2 linked regions of the Homo sapiens genome follow. The protein of the gene in region 2 purifies or fractionates together with the protein of the main gene of each other region. This does not show direct contact. Each region holds a gene or a part of one and is shown on either strand. Other genes may lie near its edges.

Region 1 (3,578 bases), on a different chromosome or scaffold from region 2:
AAAAAAAAATTAGCCAGGCGCGGTGGTGGGCGCCCTTAGTCCCAGCTTCTCAGGAGGCTGAGGCAGGAGAATCACTTGAACCTGGGAGGTGGAGGTTGCAGTGAGCCGAGATCGTACCACTGCACTCCAGCCTGGGCGACAGAGCAAGACTCCGTCTAAAAAAAAAAAAAAAAAAAAAAGAGAGAGAGAGAAATAGCTTTAGTTCTTTTACAGAAGATGAAAGAAGCATGGAAAAGCCTGAAGCCTCACATTTCTACAATGCAACTGTAAGACTGCTGTTCTCACTTTTTTTGCATAGGTCCCTCCACTTGGTTCAGCAGCTGATTCCCTATATGGCCTTTGGGCACAGAGGAGTTCACAGGTTTCTGATGTGAGGACTCAGGAATGGTACTTGGTCTTCTGCTGAAAAGCTAATAATTGCTTGCTTTGGGTACAACTTCCCCACCCAGAAAATTCAACTTGTAATTCTTCTTCTCAGTGCAAGCTTCAAGTGGTAAGCTTTTAGAAGCCCAATTTCTGGCCTACAGCTCACTAGTGATTATATCCATGGGCAAAATCTCTCTTCAAACCTATTGGTTTTTCCAGTAAATTAGCTTCAAGAACATCTGCACCTAACTAATAATAAATTGTGGTGAATAATGAAATATCAGAGATGCAAAAGGGCTTGGGACTTTGAAAGAAAATGCACAAAAGTGTTACTGGTATACATTTACATTACTTCTGTGAAAGGGCCATATAATAAAATCCACATAATGAGAACGCCATGAAGTTCAGTATTTGCTTATGTGAAAAAAGACAATTATTTACACAGCATTTTAATCTGCTGCCTCCTGGCTAGGCACGGTAGCTCATGTCTGTAATCCCAGCACTTTGGGAGGCCAAGGCTGGTGGAGTTCGAGACCAGCCTGGGCAACACAGTGAGATCCCATCTCTATAAAAAAGTACAAAAATTAGCTGGGTGTGGTGGCATGCCTCTGTGGTCCCAGCTACTCAGGAGGCTGAGGTGGGAGGATCGCTTGAGCCCGGGAGGTTGAGGCTACGGTGAGCCAAGAACATGCCACTGCACTCCAGCCTGGGCAACAGAGGATATCCTGTCTTTTTTAAAAAAATTTGCTGCTTCCCTAAAATCCCCCAAATAGCTGCTTAATATTATGTACGATGTCACTCTGTCAAGTTTTACTTGCTTAACACAAATGCTTCTTAAGCTCACTGTTTTAAATGCATTGGTCTTAAAGGTTCTGTCTTATCAGTTTTCTAAGAGTTGCAACAATGCTTTTGTAGACAGAACAAACATTTGTTTTGGACTTAGTGATTTCTTTGTAAAGGAGTTGAGCAGCTGACTTACAGGCCTCCAAAATCAATGTAAAACCACCGCTGGAGAAGTTCATAAGTGACCAAGGTAACACCAAACTGGGGAGAGGATCGAAACACTCGAGCTGAAAAAGAGAAGCAGGGGCAGGGGAGACTTGAAACCAGGACAAATGTGGTAAAGATAGCCACTGAGTCACAGGGGAGGACGCTAGAGCCAGCCAGCCATTCTGTATGGCTCCAGCCCCTGCCTACCTGCAGTCCCTTTCCAAAATGCTGAGGGCCCTTCTTCCCGGAGAATCTTCCTGAAACAGTCGATGACACCACTGTATGTCGTCTGGCCAGCGCGGGCAGCCACCTGCAGTCTTGTCTTGATGACATCAGCAGGGGTCACCAGAGATGCAGCTGGGACACCTTTCAGGAGAAAACCACATTTAATTTATCTAGAGTACCTTATAAAAGATAGGAATACTGCTAACATCTACTATAGAGCCTGCAACTTCAACCACTTGAGCGGAACTCAAAACTCTTTACATAGATGTCTGGCCATTAATGGGAAAAGGGCATAGAAGCCTATTAGCTGTTGCAGTGTGATCAGGGGAAAATTATTATTATTTTTTCCTGAATTAAAAAAAAAATCACTCTACATTGCATGATCCCAAATAACTGTGAGAGAGAAAAAAAAAGTAGCAATATTAATAAGACAATTCCCAAGCGTTCCCTTTCAGTTTCAATTATTTTACCTCCTTTTTTTCTTAAATAAGATACAAGTATTTTTATGTATAAAAAAATGATAATGTCATCTTAGTGAGTCACTAAATGTATCTGACACCAAACTACTGTTTTTGCTGATTCTTGTCGTAGTGTGGGAAGTGAATATCAATACTTATAATCACTCGCTTGTTTGAAGGGCTACCTTGAGAGTTGACTGTGACTCCTTTCAGACATGCTTACATGACAAAAGTCATTACAACTGGAGCAAGAGGTGGCCAGGCAGCCAGTTAAGAAACAACAGGGGAGCTGGTCAGGGAAAGGCCCCTGTGCCCGAGCTCCCTGGGGTCATGTTGAGATTGATCAGCAGCAGGACACAAAAGATGGATTTCACAACCACACCTTTTACTTATAAAACAAAACAGAGAGCAAAGGAGCAAAATAATCTTCCCCGGGGGAAGAAATTCAATTTGGCCTGAATATCACTGTATCCTCACTAGGCGGATGGAGTTGGCAGCCTTGTACGAGGTTCTGCTAGGGAATAATGCAAATACTTCCCCTTGGCATGGCCTTGCACCCTATTCAGATGAAACTAGGTAAACTTCCTGCCTTTGGAGGCAGACTTCTGAATGTTCTCAGTTCCTGCTAGCAAAGCTTGACTGGTAAAAATTAGAAAAAATAATCTCATTCTGAAAACTGACATCAAATGTCTATGGGGAAGAAGTCGGTGCTGACAGTTCCATGGAAATATTTACTTGGTTCAACCACTTGCAAACACCTGTCCACAATTAGACTCTTCTTCTCTGGCTGTTTTTCATTGTTGATTGGAAAGCACAAGGAAAAGCCTGGAAGGCAAATGCTGCCCCCATTTAAAAGTAGGAGACTGGGCCAAGTGTGGTGGTTCACGCTTGTAATCCCAGCACTTTGGAAGGCCAAGATGGGAGGATCACCTGAGGTCAGGAGTTTGAGACCTCACATTTACAGCCTGACTCTCTTTTTTTTTTGAGACAGTCTCACTCTGTCGCCCAGGCTGGAGTGCAGTGGCACAATCTCGGCTCACTGCAAGCTCCGCCTCCCAGGTTCATGCCATTCTCCTGCCTCAGCCTCCCCAGTAGCTGGGACTACAGAAGCCCGCCACCACGCCCGGCTAATTTTTTGTATTTTTAGTAGAGACGGGGTTTCACCGTGTTAGCCAGGATGGTCTCGATCTCCTGACCTCGTGATCTGCCCGCCTTGGCCTCCCAAAGTGCTGGGATTACAGGAATGAGCCACCAAGCTCGGCCTCAGCCTGACTCTTGAGTTAGGAAGGAGCTGATTTGGAAAAGGAGGAGAGAACCAGGTGTCCTTGGCTGCACCAACACTCCGAAAAGACAAAGGAAGGAAGGGGTGCATGTTTGCTCTCTATACAACCAGTAATGAACCATTACAGAGCTCAGTGTGGCTCTGACCAGCTGTGCTGGCCAACATGGTGAAACCCTGTCTTTACTAAAAATACAAAAATTGGCCAGGCATGGTGGTACACGCCTGTAGTCCCAACTACTTGGGAGGCTGACACAGGA
Region 2 (5,674 bases):
TAATCCTCTGGGAAGCTTTTAAACAATGCTTATGCTCAGGCCTCCCATACCCAGTGTTATTAGGCTGTTCTCACATTGCTATAAAGAAATACCTGAGACTGGATAATTTATAAAGAAAATAAGGTTAATTGGCTCATGGTTCTGCAGGCTGTACAGGAAGCATGGTGGCATTTGCTTCTGGGGAGGCCTCAAGAAGCTTCCAATAGCGGCAAAAGGCAAAGGGGGAGAAGGCACGTCACATGATGGGAATGGAGCAAGGGCAAGGGAGGTGCTACACACTTTTAAATGACCAAATCTTGCAAGAACTCACTCATCATCGCAAAGACAGCACCAAGCCATGAGGGATCTGGCACCATGACCCAAACACCTCCCACCAGGCCCCATTTCCAGCATTAGGGATTACAATTCAACATGAGACACTGGCAAGGATAAATATGCAAACTATATCACCCAGAGATTCTGATTTAATTGTCTGGGGTTGGGGCTGGCTTTGGTATTTTTAAAAACATGTAGTCAGACTAGAGAACCACTGCAAAGCAGAGCTGCTCAGTGGCTCATGAATGTTGGTGCAGTGGTTCTCAATCTTGGCTGCCTGATAGAATCACCAAATGAGCATTGATGTTGGGCCTTATCCACAGAGATTCTGATTTAATTGGTCTTGGGTGTAACTTAGTCATCAGGATTTCTAAAATCTCCTCTGGTAATACTAATGTGCATCCAAGGTTGAAAACCACTCTGAAAGACTCTAGATTTTGGAGCTTCATCCATAGAAATTTCCTTTTAGGTCTGGAATGGAGTCGTGGTACATTTATTTTTAATAAACACCCCAGGTGTTTGTGTTGTTTGTACATAACTGAAGTAGAGGCTAAAAAAGGGCTGTACTTAGACATCTCTTCTACAGCATCCTCCAATGTAGCTAAAATAATAGAAAACTTACAAACCGAATAAGATGGTATTATACAATGTTAGGATCCTCTATTAGCACAGTTCACTAAATGACCTGTTGAGTAACTAATCTTTGTACAACATTGCTGTTCATAATGATTAGATATTTTCTGAATTGCTCCTCAAAGATCTCTGTGATCTATGTGTTGTTCTTAACACCCTTATTTTACTACAAATGTGCTGAGGGTCAGAGAAGTTCTGGGATTTGGGTAAATTCACAATAGTTGTCGTCAGGATGCTAACCCATGATTATTTGATACCAAATTTCATGTTATTTCATTTTACTTTCCAGAGTGTATATAAAGATAGTTGGAAAAGGCACAGTTAGTTTAATAGTATACCATAAAAACTAAGGATAATTACCATTGTTGGTTATTGCATAGTAAATTCTGCAAGTATTCTGAGTGGGAAATTTTGATTGATGGTAAACCTTGAAGTAGTCAGGTAAATCTTATTTGTAAACATTTGAAGTAAGAAACCAGCAAAGGGATGAACACATTGAAATTTTGGTGAGGACTTTGCAGCTTGTTTAGGTAATTCAATGAGCTGTATCTAGTTGAATAACTACAGCCTCCATCTCTTCCCTTTTGTCAGGTGTGCCAAAGAGCCTGAATTACAGTGGTGTGAAAGAGCTTATTTTAGCAGTCGACGGGGTGCTGTCTGTGCACAGCCTGCACATCTGGTCTCTAACAATGAATCAAGTAATTCTCTCAGCTCATGTTGCTACAGGTCAGTGAGTTTTGTAAACACCCTGGAAAAAATTCAGTCCTTGTCCTGTAAAGTCAGTAATTTCCCTTCTTTTTGTAGAGCTGCCCTTATTGTCTGTTGCTTGTCAAAACATTATAAAGTGTTTTCTATTACCAAGGGCCTTTGAAACCAGCCCACTTATTGATGTTGTCATAGCAACAATGATACCCACGACATTCTTGGGGCTGACTGCAGAGGGCTGAGGACAGACAGAACAAAGGACTAAAATGCACCCGCCACTTCAAGGCCTTGGACTCTGAATATTCAACTTCATCTGTTTGGCTTGGTGCCCTATCAGTCAAATAATAGGAATGAATTAAAAACTTAATCTTAATTGAGTATCTCCTATGTATAAGATGTTTTTCCTGGCACTGAAAATAGGAAGATGAAAGAGACACCAGCCCCACTCTTAAATTTCTAACAAGCTAATGGATGTGCTAATAGGAATTATGGTGGGGTCCCACACTGTATGATTAGAAATTCTGTAGCCATGTGAGAAAATTCTTATAATACTAGGTTTATACTAAAATTACTTTTTCAAGAAGTTAATTTTGTCTCTGATATGTCCTAGAGCTGGGAGGATAGGCAGTGGGAGGGCATTTACTGCCTCAAGAGAAAGCTCAGGCCAAGGATAACACATTAGGCTGCTAAAAAATGACTCAAGGAGTTACTTAGGGGCAGGGGACAGGAACACTAGTGACAGTCATTTGAAAACTGTGCTTTCTCAGACATCGTCATCTTCTCGAAGGGGCTTAGGTCTGACTTGAGGGAATTTACAGCATTCACTATGCCAATATTTCACTGCAAATGGAAGAATCTAGTAAACACTCAGGTTGCTATGGAGGAGACTTTACAGCCTGCTGATAGCATTTGGGACAGGAAAAAAATGGCAGTGAGGGTTGCTGCTCTAAGAAAGGTCTGTGGGGAGCTCTAAACGCTTCCTGGTTCCTGTCACTATCCTTGATATAAATTCTGATTACATACAAAGCCTGCAACCCAGAGATCCCTGGGAGCTGGTGAGCAGGGCTGTATAAGAAATAATAGTTCTGTCTTGGCTTTTTCCAGGGCTTGTCTCCCCTTCCATAGTAAGCTCCTAGGAATGCCAGACTCCAGAGATAACAGTGGACAGAAAGAGTTCCCATAGCGACAGGGCACTTTGCTGCACTAGAGTTTCCCCTGCCTTGTCTGTGTGAATGTAGCTGATTATCAGAGCAAACGTGGCTTCCTCTGAGTGCCCTGCCTCTGCCCCACCCCAGCAGGTCAAAGACAAAGTACTTGAAGTTGGAGTCAGAGCAGTCGCCCATGCGTGTGCAATCAGTGCTAATCTCCCTGTGCTTCTTTATCAACAGCAGCCAGCCGGGACAGCCAAGTGGTTCGGAGAGAAATTGCTAAAGCCCTTAGCAAAAGCTTTACGATGCACTCACTCACCATTCAGATGGAATCTCCAGTTGACCAGGACCCCGACTGCCTTTTCTGTGAAGACCCCTGTGACTAGCTCAGTCACACCGTCAGTTTCCCAAATTTGACAGGCCACCTTCAAACATGCTGCTATGCAGTTTCTGCATCATAGAAAATAAGGAACCAAAGGAAGAAATTCATGTCATGGTGCAATGCACATTTTATCTATTTATTTAGTTCCATTCACCATGAAGGAAGAGGCACTGAGATCCATCAATCAATTGGATTATATACTGATCAGTAGCTGTGTTCAATTGCAGGAATGTGTATATAGATTATTCCTGAGTGGAGCCGAAGTAACAGCTGTTTGTAACTATCGGCAATACCAAATTCATCTCCCTTCCAATAATGCATCTTGAGAACACATAGGTAAATTTGAACTCAGGAAAGTCTTACTAGAAATCAGTGGAAGGGACAAATAGTCACAAAATTTTACCAAAACATTAGAAACAAAAAATAAGGAGAGCCAAGTCAGGAATAAAAGTGACTCTGTATGCTAACGCCACATTAGAACTTGGTTCTCTCACCAAGCTGTAATGTGATTTTTTTTTCTACTCTGAATTGGAAATATGTATGAATATACAGAGAAGTGCTTACAACTAATTTTTATTTACTTGTCACATTTTGGCAATAAATCCCTCTTATTTCTAAATTCTAACTTGTTTATTTCAAAACTTTATATAATCACTGTTCAAAAGGAAATATTTTCACCTACCAGAGTGCTTAAACACTGGCACCAGCCAAAGAATGTGGTTGTAGAGACCCAGAAGTCTTCAAGAACAGCCGACAAAAACATTCGAGTTGACCCCACCAAGTTGTTGCCACAGATAATTTAGATATTTACCTGCAAGAAGGAATAAAGCAGATGCAACCAATTCATTCAGTCCACGAGCATGATGTGAGCACTGCTTTGTGCTAGACATTGGGCTTAGCATTGAAACTATAAAGAGGAATCAGACGCAGCAAGTGCTTCTGTGTTCTGGTAGCAACTCAACACTATCTGTGGAGAGTAAACTGAAGATGTGCAGGCCAACATTCTGGAAATCCTATGTCAATGGGTTTGGTTTGGAACCTGGACTTCTGCATTTTTAAAAGTTACCCAGAGATGCTTCTAAAGATGAGCCATAGTCTAGAAGATTGTCAACCACAGGAGTTCATTGAGTGGGACAGCTAGACACATACATTGGCAGCTACAATAGTATCATGAATTGCAATGATGTAGTGGGGTATAAAAGGAAAGCGATGGATATTGCCGGATGGGCATGGCCAGTGATGTTTCACGTCATTGAGGTGACAGCTCTGCTGGACTTTGAATTACATATGGAGGCTCTCCAGGAAGACGAAGAAGAGAAGGACATTCTAGGCAAAAAGAAGACTAGGCACAAGGCACACTTATGTTTGTCTGTTAGCTTTTAGTTGAAAAAGCAAAATACATGATGCAAAGAAACCTCTCCACGCTGTGATTTTTAAAACTACATACTTTTTGCAACTTTATGGTTATGAGTATTGTAGAGAACAGGAGATAGGTCTTAGATGATTTTTATGTTGTTGTCAGACTCTAGCAAGGTACTAGAAACCTAGCAGGCATTAATAATTGTTGAGGCAATGACTCTGAGGCTATATCTGGGCCTTGTCATTATTTATCATTTATATTTGTATTTTTTTCTGAAATTTGAGGGCCAAGAAAACATTGACTTTGACTGAGGAGGTCACATCTGTGCCATCTCTGCAAATCAATCAGCACCACTGAAATAACTACTTAGCATTCTGCTGAGCTTTCCCTGCTCAGTAGAGACAAATATACTCATCCCCCACCTCAGTGAGCTTGTTTAGGCAACCAGGATTAGAGCTGCTCAGGTTCCCAACGTCTCCTGCCACATCGGGTTCTCAAAATGGAAAGAATGGTTTATGCCAAATCACTTTTCCTGTCTGAAGGACCACTGAATGGTTTTGTTTTTCCATATTTTGCATAGGACGCCCTAAAGACTAGGTGACTTGGCAAACACACAAGTGTTAGTATAATTCTTTGCTTCTGCTTCTTTTTGAAAATCATGTTTAGATTTGATTTTAAGTCAGAAATTCACTGAATGTCAGGTAATCATTATGGAGGGAGATTTGTGTGTCAACCAAAGTAATTGTCCCATGGCCCCAGGGTATTTCTGTTGTTTCCCTGAAATTCTGCTTTTTTAGTCAGCTAGATTGAAAACTCTGAACAGTAGATGTTTATATGGCAAAATGCAAGACAATCTACAAGGGAGATTTTAAGGATTTTGAGATGAAAAAACAGATGCTACTCAGGGGCTTTATGAACCATCCATCAATTCTGAAGTTCTGACTCTCCCATTACCCTTTCCCTGGTGTGGTCAGAACTCCAGGTCACTGGAAGTTAGTGGAATCATGTAGTTGAATTCTTTACTTCAAGACATTGTATTCTCTCCAGCTATCAAAACATTAATGATCTTTTATGTCTTTTTTTTGTTATTGTTATACTTTAAGTTCTGGGGTACATGTGCGGAACATGTAG

Evidence for each region. Proteins that work in one complex are often made in the same cells at the same time.
Region 1: the proteins of SLC30A8 (region 2) and SLC25A12 purify together in Homo sapiens (affinity purification with mass spectrometry; one large-scale study listed by BioGRID and IntAct). This does not show direct contact.

Annotation. Positions count from the first base shown.
Region 1 is NC_000002.12:171,786,226-171,789,803, forward strand, and holds part of SLC25A12 (electrogenic aspartate/glutamate antiporter SLC25A12, mitochondrial), read right to left. Parts: intron 1,723-3,578; coding exon 1,564-1,722; intron 1,437-1,563; coding exon 1,346-1,436; intron 1-1,345. UniProt on the Homo sapiens protein: Mitochondrial electrogenic aspartate/glutamate antiporter that favors efflux of aspartate and entry of glutamate and proton within the mitochondria as part of the malate-aspartate shuttle.
Region 2 is NC_000008.11:117,169,495-117,175,168, forward strand, and holds part of SLC30A8 (proton-coupled zinc antiporter SLC30A8), read left to right. Parts: intron 1-1,539; coding exon 1,540-1,674; intron 1,675-3,041; coding exon 3,042-3,187; 3' UTR 3,188-5,674. UniProt on the Homo sapiens protein: Proton-coupled zinc ion antiporter mediating the entry of zinc into the lumen of pancreatic beta cell secretory granules, thereby regulating insulin secretion.